Regions from separate parts of the Homo sapiens genome. Here region 1 is linked to region 2. The links come from fine-mapping of genetic effects on gene expression. Tissue or cell type: whole blood. Region 2 holds a variant in brackets; the other region holds the start of a gene. All regions are shown on one strand. Distances are from middle to middle.

Region 1 (8,000 bases), 74 kb before region 2:
GCTTCCCGCTGCCGCCACCTGCACCTCCTGGGAGCCGTCCCTGGTCCCTGAAGCCTGCTTTGCCGAATTGGAGGCAGGCCCAGGTCAACCCTAAACCCATGCCTGCAGGAGTCAGTGGATAAATACCCCAGCCCGTGTCCCTTAAGCTGGCTGGACAACCCCGCGGTGCGCTCTACGCTGCCCCCTGCAAGGGCCTAGTGGGATAGAACTCAAGGCAAGAGCTCCTTGGACTCTGTGGGTACCTCCCCTTTTTAAAATTTTACTTTATGTATGTTTTTGAGACAGGATCTCGCTCTGTCGCCCAGGCTGGAGGGCAGCAGTGCAATCATAGCTCACTGCAGCCTCGACCTCCCGGGCTCAAGCGACTCTCCCACCCCAGCCCCATGAGTAGCTAGGACTACAGGTGCACGCCACCACGCCAAGCTAATTTCTTTCTTTTTCTTTTTTTAAGAGACGGGGTCTTGCTCTGTACCCAGGCTGGTCTCAAACTCCTGGCCCCAAGTGATCCTCCTGCCCTGGCCTCCCACAGCGCTGGGATTACAGGTATGAGCCACTGCGCCCAGCCTCAGTGTCTGTTTCTGAGGGAACAGGGGACATTTGGTCACAAACCCCCACCCCCTGCCCAGGATGAGCCCGGGCCGTACCTGGGCCTCGTAGGGGAGGAAGGCAAGGTGAATCTCCTTCAACGTCTTCACCACCTTTGCCAGACGAGAGCGGCCTAGCTCACTGAACAGGGGCTCGGGGCAGGCTGGGGTGAGGCAGGAGTGGGGCATCAGGCCAGAGCAGCCCCCACACCTCCTTGCCCCACCCACCAACACCCTAGGCTCTCCTCACTCACTGTCGGTGAAGAAGATATGGGCCGCTTTGTAGGTGAAAGTCGGGGTCCCCTGGAAGTCTTTGATCAGGGCCTGAACCGACTGGGGAAGGTGGATCACTCTCTGGGCCTGAGCCTGCACACCTAGGCTCATTGGCTGCCTAGGCCTCCCAGCCACCCCCCATCTGCCACCATGTGCAAACATGGACGGACGGGGACATGTATATGTGCAAATGCACACTAGTGTCGCACCCACATGGGCACACGCGCACACACACAGATGCACGCACGCACACACACATACACACGCATGCACACATGCACACACACACAGATGCACACACACATACACACATGCACACACAGAGATGCACACACATACATACACACATGCACACACACAGATGCGCGCGCACACATACATACACACATATACACACATGCAGACACTGATGCGCACACACACGCATACACACATGCACAGACGCATACACACACGCATACACACGCACACACAGATGCACACACATACATAGACACATGCACACAGATGCACATACATATACACGCATACACACATGCACACACAGATACACACAGACGCACACACAGACGCAGACACATACATACACACGCATACACACATGCACACAGACAGACGCACACACACACATACAGATGCACACAGATGCACACACACATACATACACACGCATACACACATGCACAGACACAAATGCACACACAGACCCACAGACACACACGCATACACACATACACACAAATGCACACACAGACGCACACACATGCACATGCACACAGACACATACATAGACACACATGCAAACACGCACACACATGCATACACAGATGCACACACACATGCACACACATGCACACACATACACATGGACACATGCACACGTATACACATGCACACATGCAATCACATGCATGCAGACATACACACACATGCACATGTACACGCATGCACGCGCATACACACACGCTCACTCATGTAGGCACCTTCTCCGTGGGGCTCAGCAAATAAATGGCCTCCAGACTGGGAATGGGTTCCCGCCGTTTGTTGATGTCTTCAACAACTAGTAGGAACAGAGGAAGGGACACAGGTGGGTGGCATCCAGGCAGGGCCACGTGGGGAGTCTCAGGTGTGGGGGGTTGGAGGCTTGGGGAGGAGGGGTGGATGCTTAGGAGGGACTGCAGGAGAAACCCACTTAGGGACCACCAGCTAAGAGCCACACGACAGGGTTCTGCAGGGGTTGTGCAGCCAACTGGGTTCCCCAAATTTACAGACAGGGAGACTGAGGTTCTGAGAGGACAGGCTCCCTCAGCACCTATCCCTCAATGGCAAAGTGACTGGGACACCACCTGGGGTCACCCATAGAAGGCTCTGCATTCTTGGGACCCCACATCCAGAGTCCACCCTGGGAGTCCCACACAGGGCTCCACGAGGGAGCTGCACGGTCAGGAAGGGGCTGCAGCCAGGGAGTGCTGCAGGGGAGGCCTGCAATCCATGGGCTCCCGCAGTCAGCTTGCAAGGTTTAAGAATGGATTTGGTCACATGATCCGGGCTGTCCGTGCAGGGAGCTGCGTACTTGGGAGTTCTGGACGATTTGAGGGGATCCTACACTCAAGGGCTGAACCCTGGGAGAGGGGCACAGTCAGGGGTTCCCACGCTCAGGTCCCATCTCACTGGGGACGCGTTCACTCACTGGTGATGCCCTCAGCCAGGATATCTGACATTTTGCAGCAGGAAGACAAGATGCGCATGCTTGGGTGATCCATGATAAGCACCTGTCCAGATGGATGGACAGATGGATGGAGGAGCAGGCGGAAGAGGCCACAGCTGGCCCCAGAAGGGGCCAAGGCAGTGGGAGGGGCAGTTTCAAGGGCTGGCTGGGTGGGAGGACCCAGAACCCATTCACCCAACTCCACCCATGTGGACAGGCAGTTCTTGGGGGTCCCACATTCAGGGTCTTCCCCATAGGCCTGATGATGAGCTGCCTCTGGGTACCCAGCCATCTGCCTCACCCCTACCTTCCACTCCCCATCCTTCTTGACACTCCGAATAACTCCGCTCAGAATTTCTGCAGGGAAGGGAGGGGAGGGGTCAGAATGCTGGTTCTCTGGTCCCACCACTGCCCCAAGCCTTCTCAGCCTTGGGGCTGAACCCCCATCTTAATTCCCATTTACTTTTTTTTTTTTTTTAAGAGAGGAGGATCTCACTCTGTCACCTAGGCTAAAGTGCAGTGGTGTGATCATAACTCACTGCGGCCTCCAACTCCTGGGCTCCAGCGATCCTCTTGCCTCAGCCTCCCGAGTAGCTGGGACTACAGGTGCATGTACCACCCACAGCTAATTTATTTTTATTTCTGTATAGATGGGGTCTCGCTATGTTGCCCAAGCTGGTCTCAAACTTTTGGCCTCAAGCAGTCCTCCTGCCTCGGCCTCCCAAAGTGCTGGGATTACAGGTGTGAGACACGGCACAGGAATCATTTATTTTTAGCCCCCAGTTCTGCAAATTGGCTTCTGGGGTCACCCCCAATTTACAGACAGGGAAACAGATTCTTAGGCAACATGTAACTCACCTACGCATCCTGAGTGTCTAAGTGGCAGAGTGCTGGGGCAAAAGGTGCCACTCGATAAACATGTTTTAGGTGAATGAAAAGAGGAGAACCGGGATCATCTACAGCTCTATCTGCCTCTAGCGCCAGGCTCTCGGCTTCCCCACCTGCTACCTCAAGTATTCCTGCTGTGAGGGTTTCAGCCAGTCCCCCCAACCTGGTCTAAAATGTAGGACCCCTGGTTCCCAGCTCTGAGGCATGCCTAGCTGAGGCTATCCCACTGACCTCCGGTCTCAGTTTCCTCATCTGTAAAATGGAATCACTTTTTTCTAATCTCCCCCAATTAAAGGGGTTTGAGCTACAGACCGCCCTGCCTAGAGGAGAGAGTGGAGAGAAGTAACGGGGTGGCCCCGCCCAGCCACGTCCACTGTGTCATGTCCACTGTTATCAAGACGGCCAGGGCGGAAGGAGCAGCTGAGGCCGGAACTCCCCGGGGTGGAGGAAGAGGCGCCCTCCACCCTTCCCCCAAGAACCGGGGCCGGTGAGGCCTGGACGCCTGCGTCCTCCAGCTGCAAGGCGCTCCTGGAAATGGGGCAAGGAGGAAGACATCCCCTACACCACCCCTGTGGGGCCTGGACACGTCCCCTGAGCGCTCACAGCACCTAGGGTCGCTGACCAGAGCCCTAGGAGGCCCCAAGAATCCAGCCCCTGAACTTTGCCCGGCTTAAGAGATCCTAGAGTGTGGGCATCCAGCTGTGCCCTCCTCCCCCGGCAGGCACCCTAGGAGGCCCAGGAGTCCGGGCCCCAGCCTCCGCCACACTCTACCCGTCCCCTTTGGGTCCCCGGAGTCCGGCCCCCCAATTTTGTTCTGTTCTGGCACCGGAGAGCAGGGGCGTCCAGCTGGGAACCCGTCCCCGCCCGCCCCCTCGAGGGTCAGGTGCTCGGACGCCCAGCCCGGCCCCCAACTCCCAGCCGCCATGAAACCCAGGATCCCAGAGCCCGTGCGTCCCCGACCCCCGTCCCACACCGGACGCCAGAGCCCGGCCCCGGAGAGGCACTCACTTTCCCCCACCACCGCCTTCAGCCCCGAGGGCGCCATCTTCCCCGAGGGGCGCCGCCGCCGCTTCCGGGTGTGTCCCAAGGTGGGGGCGTGGCCCCGCGCGTCACCCACGTGGACCCCGCCCCGCGGGCCCTGTCCCCGCCCCCTGCGCACCTGGCCCCTCCCCGCCGTCGGTTCTCGCCCAGGCCCAGGAAGTTGAGTCCCTGGCGGGGAGGACGGGCAGGTGCGTCCGCGCTGCCGAGCACGAAGTCGCTGGAGGTGCACACCTCGACGACACGCTCACAGATGGGAGTTCAGACACACACTTCCTGGCTTGCGTGCGAAGCAGGATCGCAGGGCAATAATCCCTCCATCTTCCCCGGGAGGTTCTGTGCCTGCAAGATACACGGCACCCACTCGATGCCACCGGGCCGCCACTGTCTGGGCCTGGGATCTTGACCCACTTGCCTTCTGTACTTCAGGGTTTAGAGGCAGCAGCAGCAGCAGCAGCCGTCTTGGATAACTTTTGATGGATTCAGGAGGCCTGGAGACCTCTTGTGTGCAGGCACCTGGACATAATTTTCATTCAGTCCTGCCCAATGTTCCGACCTGGACTGCGGTGCCGACGAGGAAACCGAGGCTTAGCGGGATCCCTAATCCAAGGCCACGACGAGTGAGCCTGCTGGGTTCAAGCCAGGAGCCTGTCCCCAGGGGGCATTTGTCACAGCCTTACCCTCTTCCGGGAGGCGCAACGCTTACCCTCGTGGACCAACAATCGAATTAACATGCTGATACACACATGGGGTGAGTGACGCCCTCAAATGCTTGCAAACACAGACACACACTCGGAATTTCAGAAGCTGCTTCTGCTGTGTGTCCTGTCGCTTGGAAGGCACAGCCCCAGCAGCACCCATACAAAATGAGGTCTCCGATTTAAGGTGCGAGGTATGTGTGCAAACAGACTCTTGCTGGTCTGAGCTGGTTCCTTCGCTCGGCCGTGTTGATGAAGGTACCAAGCCCCCTGCCACTTACATGGGACATAGGGAGTGAATCAGACCCGAAGGTCTGGGGGAGATAGGAAAGGATCCATGCTGCCCTAAAGGAAATAAACTAATGTGACAACAAGTGCCACAGAAGGTAGGGGTGGGAGGGGACTTTACTGAGGATGACCCCCGAGGGCCTCTCTGAAGAAGCAGCCTTTTGACATTATCCCTAAATGGATTCTAGAAGCAGCCACACAGCATGTCCAGGTAGAGAAGGGAGGAGCCCCGAGCTTAAGAAGGCTGGAGGGTGGGGGCAGCAGGGGCCAGACTTCTGTAGGACAAGGTCAGACTGACCCATCCCAGTGCCAGGATGCAGGACTTTCAGTGCTAAAAATAGGACAGTCACAGGCAAACCAGGACGGTTGGCAACCGTAGGTAGGAGTTTGAGCTATTTCTTCCTTTCCTTTCCTTTTCCCTTCCTTTCTTCCTTCTTCTCCCTCCTCCCCATTTTTGTTTGTTTTTGTTTTGTAAAGAGACGGGTCTCGCTCTGTTGCTCAGGCTGGAGGGCAGTGGCACGATCATAGCTCACTGCAGCCTCGACTTCCTGAGCTCAAGGGATTCTTCCACTTCGGCCACCCAAGTAGCTGGGACTACAGGTGCACGCCACCGTGCCCGGTTGATTTTGTTGTTGTTGTTAAGAGACAGGATCTCCCTATGTTGCCCAGGCTGGTATCAAACTCCTGGGCTCAAGGGATCCTCCTGCCTTGGCCTCCCAAAGTGTTAGGATTTTAGGTATGAGCCACCGCACCCTGCCCCTTCCTCCTTTTGTAACAGCTTTACTGAGATATAATTCACATACCATACAACTCGCTGACCTAAGGTGCGTAAGTCAATGGCTTTCAGTATTTTTGGAGTTGTGTGTCCATTACCACAATCCATTTTAGAACATTTCCACAACCCCTAGGTGTTTGGGTTTTGTCTTCTCAAGAGTTTTGAGCAGGGGAAGGCGGGGAACCCTCCAGATCCTGGGGGGATGGAAGCCAGGACCGCCTCCAGCTTCTCAGCCTGACCCCTTGGGGGGACAGAGAGCTGTTAGGGCCAGCCACCCCACCACTAACCCCCAAAAGATATGAAGTACTAATCCCCAATACCCCACAATAGGATCTTATTTGAAATGGGGTTAGTATAGATATTAGCAGTGAGCATGAGGTCACACTGGAGTAGAGTAGGCCCCTAATGCAATATCACTGGTGTCCTTGTAAGATAGTTATATGTCTGCCTGGTTCTGTGTAGGTGGTTGGGGGGGTGGGGAAATGGGTATATGAAGACTGGGACACAGAGGGAGAATGCCATGTGACCACGGAGGCAGGGAGTGAAGAGCTGCAGTGACAAGCCAAGGACATCAAGGACGGCAGGCCACTGCCAAAAGCCAGGGAGGGGCAAGGAGGGCTCCTGAGACCTGGTTTTCAGAGGGAGCACAGCTCTGCCAACACCTTCATTTCAGGCTGTGGCCTCTGGAACGTTGGCTCAATAAATTTGTTAAAAAAAAATTTTAAAGGCTCAGCATGGTGGCTCATGCCTGTAATCCCAGCACTTTGGGAGGCCCAGGCAGGAGGATCACATGAACCCAGGAGTTTGAGACTAGCCTGGGCAAAATAGTGAGACCTCATCTCTATATAAAAATATATAACAAAAGTCAACTTATGTGTTTTAAGCCATCTGGTCTATGACACTTTGTTCTGGCAGGCCTAGGAAAGGGATACACGTACTGAGGAGGGGGACACTTCATTGGCATAGAGGGAGAGAGTGTGAACTTGGCCTTTTGTGGAACAGAGGAGGCTCGGGCAGAGGTGGTGATAGTGCAGCCCATTCATTCTGAGATGAAACTTCCACTGGTTTCCGTAAAGGCGTCTTGGGGAGGGAAGGGAAGGGGATGGGGACCTCCCAGTGGTATCCCCTGCTTGGGCACTGAGGGAAAGCCACAGTGGCTCGGGGGAAAAGGCAGGGACGTCCTCTCCCCGCCTGCCTCTGTCCCCAGGGAGTCTCGCCTCCTGTTCCCACCTGGGGCTAGGGTGATAGAGGAGAGGAGATAGCTCAACCTGGCATTTAGGTGGTGTGGGAACAGGAGACCCCAGACTTTCTTGTTTTGGGGTCTGGGGCAGGCAACCAGGCTCCAGGGACAGTGAGTTGAAGGAAGGGTGGCTGGGAGACCCCTTGACTTGCTGCCAAGGAGACAGAGCTGGAGCTAGGGTGGCCGGTGGTGTCTGAGGCAGGTGCAGAGAGGGAGGGAGGGAAGGGGCCTTTGACTCCAACCTCCTTTTTCTGTACCGACTGCAGGTGGCAGCTGCCCTTTCAGGAGCCAGTGGGGGAACCTGGGTGGCTGGGTGGGGACACCTGCAAGTCCTCCCTAAGCCAGCTACCACCCTACACTGTTGGCCTCCCTTCTCCAACTGTGGGGATGCTGCTCAGGCCTTTTGTGACATCACACCTGAGAGTCCCTGGGGTCCAGTCATTGCTGCTGGGCACAGCGAGGTCCAAGCTCAGGTCGCCCTGCCCCCTACCCACCATGCCAGATCCAG
Region 2 (8,155 bases):
GATAGGGTCTTGCTCTGTCACCCAGGCTGGAGTGTAGTGGTGTGATAATAGATCACTGCAGCCTCAAACTCCTGGGCTCAAGCAATCCTCCTGCCTTAGCCTCCCAAAGTGCTGGGATTACAGGTGTGAGCCGCCATGCCCAGCCTCTTATTTTTTTTAATTTGTTTATTTATTTTTTGAGATAGAGGCTTATTCTGTCACCCAGGCTGGAGCGTAGTGGCATGATCTCGGCTCATTGTAATCTCTGCCTCCCAGGTTCAAGCAATTCTCGTGCCTCAGCCTCGCAAGAAGCTGGGATTACAGGCACGCACCACCACATCCAGCTATTTTGTATTTTTAGTAGAGAAGGGGTTTCACCATGTTGGCCAGGCTGGTCTCCAACTCCTGGCATCAAGTGACCTACCTGCCTTGGCCTCCCAAAGTACTGAGATTACAGGCATGAGCCACTGTGCCTGGCCTAAACTTATTATTAATATTATTTTTATAAAAGGTTTTACTCTGTTGCCCAGGCTGGAGTGCAGTGGTGCAATTATAGCTCACTGCAGCCTCTAACTCCTGGGCTCAAGCGATCTTCTAACTTCAGCTTCCCAAGTAGCTGGGACTACAGAAGCCCACCCTCACACTCAGCTACTTTTAATATTTTTCATAGAGTCAGAGTCTCACTATGTCACCCAGGCTGGTCTTGAACCCCTGGCCTCAAGCGATCCTCCTGCTTTGGCCTCCCAAAGTGTTGGGATTACAAGTATGAGCCACTGCACTTGGCCTGGGTGGCCAAAAGATGTCCTACAGCCTGACCAGGTTGGTTCTTCCCTGTCCAACCTCTACATGGCCATTTCCAGACACTGGGCAACAAACACACCAAGAGGCTGGGTGCGGTGGCTCATGCCTGTAATCCCAGCATTTTGGGAGGCCAAGGCAGGCAGATTTCTTGAGGTCAGGAGTTCAAGATCAGCTTGGCCAACATGGCAAAACCCCATCTCTACTAAGAATTAAAAAGAAAATTAGCTGGGCATGGTGGCATGCACCTATAATCTCAGCTATTCAGGAAGCTGAGGTGGGAGAATCACTTGAGCCCAGGAGGTGGAGGTTGCGCTAAGGCGAGATCACACAACTGCACTCCAGCCTGGGTGACAGATAGAGACTCTGTCAAAGAAAGAAAGAAAAAGAGGAGAGGGAGAGGGAGAGGGGGAGAGAGAGACAGAGAGACAGACAGAGAGAGACAGAGAGAGACAGAGAGAGAGAGACCAAGAAAACACTCTTGAGAATGTGACTTTATCAGTCTCTTGGGTCCACACCTCGTGGCCAGCTCCTGTGGATTGCAGGACAGGGCCCCTGACCCTGAACCCAGGTCCTCACTGTAACCTCAAAATTTCTTGGCGCTAGCTGAGTCTCAAGCTCTGGAACCAGAGAGGGGTAGCCTAGAGAGTCCAGGAAGGTCCAGTTGAGGCTCAGTTCCAACTCTGTTAGTCAATAGTTTGTTTTTTGTTTGTTTTTATTTTAATTTTTTGAGACAGGGTCTCGCCCTATTGCCCAGGCTGGAGTGCAGTGGCATGATCATGGCTCACTGCAGCCTAGACCTCCCTTGGCTCAAGTGATCCTCCTACCTCAGCCTCCCTAGGATCTGGGATTTCGGGCTCACACCACCATGCCTGGCTAATTTTTTGTATTTCTGATAGAGATGGGGTTTTGCCATGTTGCCCAGGCTGATGTCGAACTACTGAGCTCAAGCAATCCACTCGCCTCGGCCTCTCAAAGTGCTTGGATTACAGGCGTGAGCTACTGCAGCCCAGCCTGTTGATCATTAGTGATGATCACCAAATATTTCCAATGCTCTCTCTTCTGGGCACATGGTAGGGCTGTTTTTTCCTGGCCACTTACAGTTGGGTAGGACCATGTGACTTTTTCTAGCCAATGAGCAGTGAGATAAAAGTATTGCATCATTTCTGGACCAGAGTATTTAATGATGGGTATGAGGCCTTCCAGAGATGTCTTTCCTCAGTCACAGTGACCCAAAACATTCCAGATAGTGACTACTTTTGTTTTAGAGACAGTCTCACTCTGTCGCCCAGGCTGGAGTGCAGTGGTGAAATCATAGCTCACTGCAGCCTCGAATTCTTGGGCTCAAGCGATTCTCCTGCTTCGACCTCGCAAATAGCCGAGACTACAGGTGCATGCCACTATGCTCAGCTGATTTTAAAAAGTTTTTTAGAGATGAGGTCTTGCTATGTTTCCCAGGCTGGTCTCAAACTCCTGGGCTCAAGCAATCCTCCTGCCTCAGCCTCCCAAGTAGCTGGGACTATAGGCATGAGCCACTGCACCCAGCTCAGAAATTACTTTTGTATTGTTTTTGCCCCCCAAGACTTTGGTGTTATTTGTTACAGCGGCATAACCTGACTTGTCCTGCCTGATCCATTACACCATCCACATCATGGCAGCTGAGTCTAGCCAAGGGCTTCTATGTTAATTTGCTAGGATTCACTGTCACAAAGTTCCACAGATGGGGTGACTTCAGCAACAAAAACGTATTGTCGGCTGGGTGAGGTGGCTCACGCCTGTAATCCCAGCACTCTGGGAGGCTGAGGCAGTTGGATTGCTTGAGCCCAGGTTCAAGACCAGCCTGGGCAATATGGCAAAACCTTGTCTCCATCAAAAATACAAAAATTAAGCCAGGTGTGGTGGCATGTGCCTGTGGTCCCAACTACCAGGGAGGATGAGGTGGGAGGATGGTTTAAGCCTGGGCGTGGTTGCAGTGAGCTGAGATGGCGCCACTGCACTCCAGGGTGGGCAACAGAGCCAGACCCTATCTCAAAATAAAACAAAACAAAATCAGAGAGAAAGAGAGAGAGTGGGAGTTATCTCAGGGATCTTTGCTTCGTCTTTGGAGCTTGATGTCATTCGACATTTACTGAGCACCTACCATGAGCCAGGTGCTGTTCTATGCAAGGTTCTTCCAGTGATGGAACTTATATTTAAGTGTGTCTTGCAGAGACAGATGAGAAACAAGTAAGCAAGTGAGGCCTGATGTGATGGCTCGTGCCTGTAATCCCAGCACTTTGGATGGCCAAGGCAGAAGGATCAATTGAACCCTGGAATTTGAGAACAGCCTGGACAACCTAGCGAGACCCTTGTCTCTACCAAAATTTTTTTTTAAAAATTATCCAGGTGTGGTGGTGCTTGCCTGTAGTCCCAGCTACTTGGCAGGCTGAGGTGGGAGCATCACTTGAGCCTGGGAGGTTGAAGCTGCAGTGAGCTATGACTTCACTACTGCACTCCAGCCTAGGCAACAGAGTGAGATCCTGTCTCTAAAAAAAAAAAAGTTAATTAAAAACTTTAGGCCGGGTGTGGTGGCTCACACCTGTAATCCCAGCACTTTGGGAGGCTGAGGCAGGCAGATTACCTGAGGTCAGGAGTTAGAGACCAGCCTGGCCAACATGGTGAAACCCCGTCTCTATTAAAAATACAAAAATTAGCCAGGTGTGGTGGCGGTTGCCTGTAATCTCAGCTACTTGGGAGGCTGAGGCAGGAGAATAGCTTGAACCCGGGAGGCAGAGGTTGCAGTGAGCCGAGATGACACCACTGCACTCCAGCCTGGGCAACAGAGTGAAACTCTGTCTCAAAAACAAACAAACAAACAAACAAAACAACAACACCAACAACACTTTATACCTGTAATCCCATCACTTTGGGAGGCCAAGACAGGTAGATCGCTTGAGCCCAGAAGTTTGAGACCAGCCTGGACAATATGGTGAGACCCCCATATCTACAAAAAAAAAAAAAAAAAAACTAGCTGCATGTGGTGACTCGCGCCTGTAGTCCCAGTTACTCGGGAGGTTGAGGTGGGAGGATCACTTGAGCTCAGGAGGTCAAAGCTGCAGTAAGCCGTGATCACATCACCGCACTCCAGCCTGGGTGACAGAGTGGGATCTTGTCTCAAAATAATAATAATAATAATAATAATAATAATAATAATAATAATAATAATAATAGTAATAATAAACAATGAAAACAATAAAAACAAGTGAAGCAACTGTGACTAATGAAGTGCTTTAAAGGCAAGGAGACAGGGGCCAACGGGAACAGGGAAGTTACTGTACACAGTCCGAAGAGGTGACAATTGAGGACAGGCTTAATCAGCTACACAGGGAGTAAAAAGCCCAATTCTGTGCTTTGAGCCAGGAATCGATGGAGAATTTGAGGAATAGAATGAAGGCTGGTACAACTGGAGCCTTGTGAGCCAGGATGGAAGGGGAGCCAGTTAAGATACAGACACCAGTAGGTGCCAAACTATGGACTGAACTTTCCCCTAAATGTCCCCCTCCACCCTCAAAACTCAGAGATCTGGAGGGCGCAGGGATATCGG[C/A]GGGGGTGGGGGGGCTTGGAGGGAAAGACACAGAGGGGGCGTCAGTAGCACCTCGGACAGCACCATCCCTGTCCATGGTGCTGACAGCTCGAGGCACTGACAGTCGGTGGGAATTTAAAATGGTGCAGCCGCTATGGAAAAGTTTGGCGTTTCTTCAATTCAACACAGAATCTCCATGTAACCCAACAATTCCACTCCCGGGCATCTAGCCAAGGAAGTTGAAAGCAGGGATCCAGATAGTTGTACACCTGTGTTCACAGCAGCATGACTCCCCATAGCCAAAAGGTGGAAGCAACTCAAGCGTCCAACAGATGAACCAATAAATACCATGTGGTCCATCTACACAATGGGATATTATTCACTCATAAAAAAGATAAACCGTTCTGGCCGGTCAAGGAGGCTCATGCCTGTAATCCCAACACTTTGGGAGGCCAAGGCGGGCAGATCACTTCAGGTCAGGAGTTTGAGACCAGCCTGGGCAACGTGATGAAATGCCGTCTCTACTAAAAATACAAAAATTAAGGCCAGGTGTGGTGGCACATGCCTGTATTCCCAGCACTTTGGAAGGCTGAGGCAGGTGGATGGCTTGAGGCCAGGAGTTTGAGACCAGACTGGCCAACATGGTGAAACCCCTTCTCTACAAAAAATACAAAAATTAGCCAGGCATGGTGGTGCTCGCCTGTGGCCCCAGCTACTTGGAAGGCTGAGGCATGAGAATCACTTGAATCCAAGAGCTGGAGGCTGCAATAAGCTGAGATCGCATCACTGCACTCCAGCCTAGGTGACAGAGAGAGACACTGTCTCAAAAATTAAAACAAAAAACAAAACAAAACCAAAAAACCCCCCCACAAAATTTAGCTGGGTGTGGTGGCGGGCGCCTGTAATCCCAGCTACTCAGGAGGCTGAGGCAGGAGAATCGCTTGAACCCGGGAGATGGAGGTCGCAGTGAGCAGAGATCATGCCACTGCACTCCAGCCTCCAGCCTGGGTGACAGAGTGAGACTCCATCTCAAAAAAAAAAACACAAAAAACAAAAAACACACAGAAAGAAATTGAGGGGTGCCATATCGGGCCCCCAAGAGCACCTGTGAGCCCGGGAGGGTGGCACGGAATGTCTGGCCCTGTGGTCCGGAGTCAGCACTGGCTTCTGAGGAGCCAGAGAAGGGGCAGAGTGGGGACAAGCACCTAGTGGGGCTCCGTGTGGATTCTAGAAAGGCATTCCCTGTGGGGGGCAAGCACCAGGTGGTGTCAGACCCCAGCCCCAGCCATCCTGAGCACAGAAGGTGGGTCCCCAGTCCGAAAACGACAGGAAGCCATTTCCAAGAGGCGAGTTTATTGGGGGAGGGGCTGGTCAAGTCATCAGTGCAACACTGCATCCCCGCTCAGGGCAGGTCAGTCCAGTGTGTGGGCCGCGGGGGTCACAGGCATAGCAGCAGGAGGGGGAGTGAGCTACCCCCACGGGGCCACCCCCAGCCCAGTCCAGGGGTGGGAGGGAGGGGGTGACCCCTGTCGAGGTCCTCAGGCATCTGTGGCTGAGCCGGGCGGCTCCTGGGGCAGACAGCGTCGTTGCCGGAGAATCGACTTCTCCTCCTCCTGCGAGGGAAGGTCACACACACGTCACCCAGCACGGGACACTGATGCGTCACATGTCAGCCAGCACCCAGCACACACAGGATCTCAAATACGCCCCCGGCTCCCCTGCCTGACACTGTACTCATGACCCTCTGGGGGATGTGAGGGGACCCTGGGCCACCCACTCTCACCATCTCGGAGGCAGTGCTGGGGCTTGCGCCCTCGGGGGACCCCCCTTCATCCCTCGAGCAGTCGGGTCCGGCGTCCTCCTCATACTCTGTCAGACAATCTGACTCCTCTCCTGGAATCGGGGAGCAGGGCACAGGTGAGGGGATTGGGGCTGGCCTGCCATCTCCAGCCACTCCCCTCCCTCTTGGGGGGTCCCCTGGGCCCCTCACCGTCAGCACAGCCATCAGAGACATAGCTCGTGGGGGGCTCAATCCGGGACACAATCTCTGCCAAGTCAGTGAAGCCAGAGCTTGGGAAGGCAAGCACCTGTGGGGTGACACTGGTGAGGCTCTTAGGGGGGGCCCACAGAGTCTTGGGGCCCCTGGGGGGCCCAGTGGTGCATTGGGGGCTCAGAGGAGATCCTAGGGTGGGAACTCTCTGAAGTCAGCAGAGGTCTGAGAGCTCAGCAAAACCCAGGGACATGTGGGGTCATCTGAGGTTTCGGGGAGACTTTAAGGGGGCTTGGGTTCTGTAATCAGTGGAGTCAGAGTGGCCCTGGGGGCATCACAGGCTTACGTCTGCACGGCGGCTCTCATTAAGGTCTGTAGACCGCCGGTCTGTGAGCATTTTCTCAATGACGTTGCCACGGCTCCAGCCTCCAAACACCGCCTTCCCGTACTGGTAGCCCACATCCTGTGGGAAATGAGGGGCTGGGTCCATGTCTGCAACCCTGCTTTGCTTGTCCCCACTCTGTCTGCCCATTCTCTGGCCCCTCAAAAGCCTGATTCTCTGGGGGAGTTGCATTTGAGACTAAACCTATTTCAGAGTCAGCTGCACATAGCACACTCGCCTACACATCCCCTGTCCTGCCCTTGACAGACATTACCAATCAATCTCTCCATGTTCTTTCCCACACAGCCCCATGCAGGGTGCTGGGTAGCAAATAACACAAGGTGGTGATGTGTGAGCTTATTTTGAAGTCTGCAAACAGGCAGTACATCTGTGGATGTCGCCATCCCCAAGCCCACAGCAAACATCTTGAATTTCTCATGGCATGCTATCCCAGTGAGCCCACAAGGGACATCACACATCTCTTCTCAGACTCAGGGCTTCTGGGCTGCAGCTACTGATCAATTTCTTTCTTTTTAAAAAAATTTTTATTATTTTTATCTTTAATTTTTAAAATTAATATTATTTTTTGAGACAGAGTCTCACTCTGTCACCCAGGCTGGAGTGCAGTGGCACAATCTTGGCTCACTGCAACCACTGCCTCCTAGGTTCAAGCGATTTCTCCTGCTGCAGCCTCTCAAGTAGCTGGGACTATAGGCATGTGCCACCACACCCAGCTAATTTTTGTATATTTAGTAGAGATGAGGTTTCACCATGTTGACCAGGCTGGTCTTGAACTCCTGACTTCAAGTGATCTGCCCACCTCGGCCTCCCAAAATGCTGGGATTAAATGCATGAGCCACCATGCCTGGCCCTTTCTTTTTCTTAGAGACAGAGTTTTGCTCTGTCACCCAGGCTGGAGTGCAGTGACGCAATCATAGCTCACTGCAGCTTCAAACTCCTGGGCTCGAGCGGTCCTCCCACCTCAGCCCCCTAAGTAGCTGGGGTGACAGGCATGCACAACCACACCCAGCTAATTTTTTATTTTTAATCTTTGTAGAGATGGGGTTTTGCTATGTTGCACAGGCTGGTCTTGAACTCCTGGTTTCAAGCAATCCTCCCACCTCAGCTTCCCAAGGTGCTGGGATTACAAGCATGAGCCACCATGCCTGGCCCCCTGATCAATTTCAATTGGCTTGGGCTATGGCACATTTTTCAGGGTCAGTAGCACATAACACACGCACTGCTACCTCCCTCTCCTGGAACTGTGGCAGACATTTCTGCTTCATCACTATTCTCATTCCCACCAATGCAGAAATGGCAGTAGAAATCACTATACAGTGCTTCCAGGGGTGCAGCTGGCCTATAAGGAGAAAGTTCTTACACAGCACATGCACAGCCACACCCCTACTACATCCCCTGCAGACATCACCAATTGATCACTGAT

The links. PIP is the estimated chance that this variant, and not a neighbour inherited with it, causes the effect.
Region 1: it holds the start of STXBP2, and the variant in region 2 is fine-mapped to the expression of STXBP2 in whole blood (TOPMed, PIP 0.91).

What each region holds. Positions count from the first base shown.
Region 1 is chr19:7,633,648-7,641,647 of GRCh38, reverse strand. It overlaps STXBP2 (syntaxin binding protein 2), which reads right to left and starts at 4,538. Exons shown (of 19, transcript NM_006949.4): 1 at 4,462-4,538; 2 at 2,873-2,922; 3 at 2,548-2,629; 4 at 1,841-1,917; 5 at 839-917; 6 at 645-748. The coding sequence starts at 4,498. It overlaps PCP2 (Purkinje cell protein 2), which reads left to right and starts at 7,929. Exons shown (of 4, transcript NM_174895.3): 1 at 7,929-8,000. RefSeq lists enhancers at 3,409-3,935, 3,936-4,464, 4,465-4,992 and a silencer at 4,431-4,720.
Region 2 is chr19:7,559,285-7,567,439 of GRCh38, reverse strand. PNPLA6 (patatin like domain 6, lysophospholipase) reads right to left here. Exons shown (of 32, transcript NM_001166114.2): 29 at 6,676-6,792; 30 at 6,330-6,426; 31 at 6,123-6,232; 32 at 5,676-5,952. The coding sequence ends at 5,878. Among named protein-coding and RNA genes, the nearest start is that of PNPLA6, 28 kb to the right of the region's middle. The variant C/A (reference allele first, on the strand shown) is at 4,361.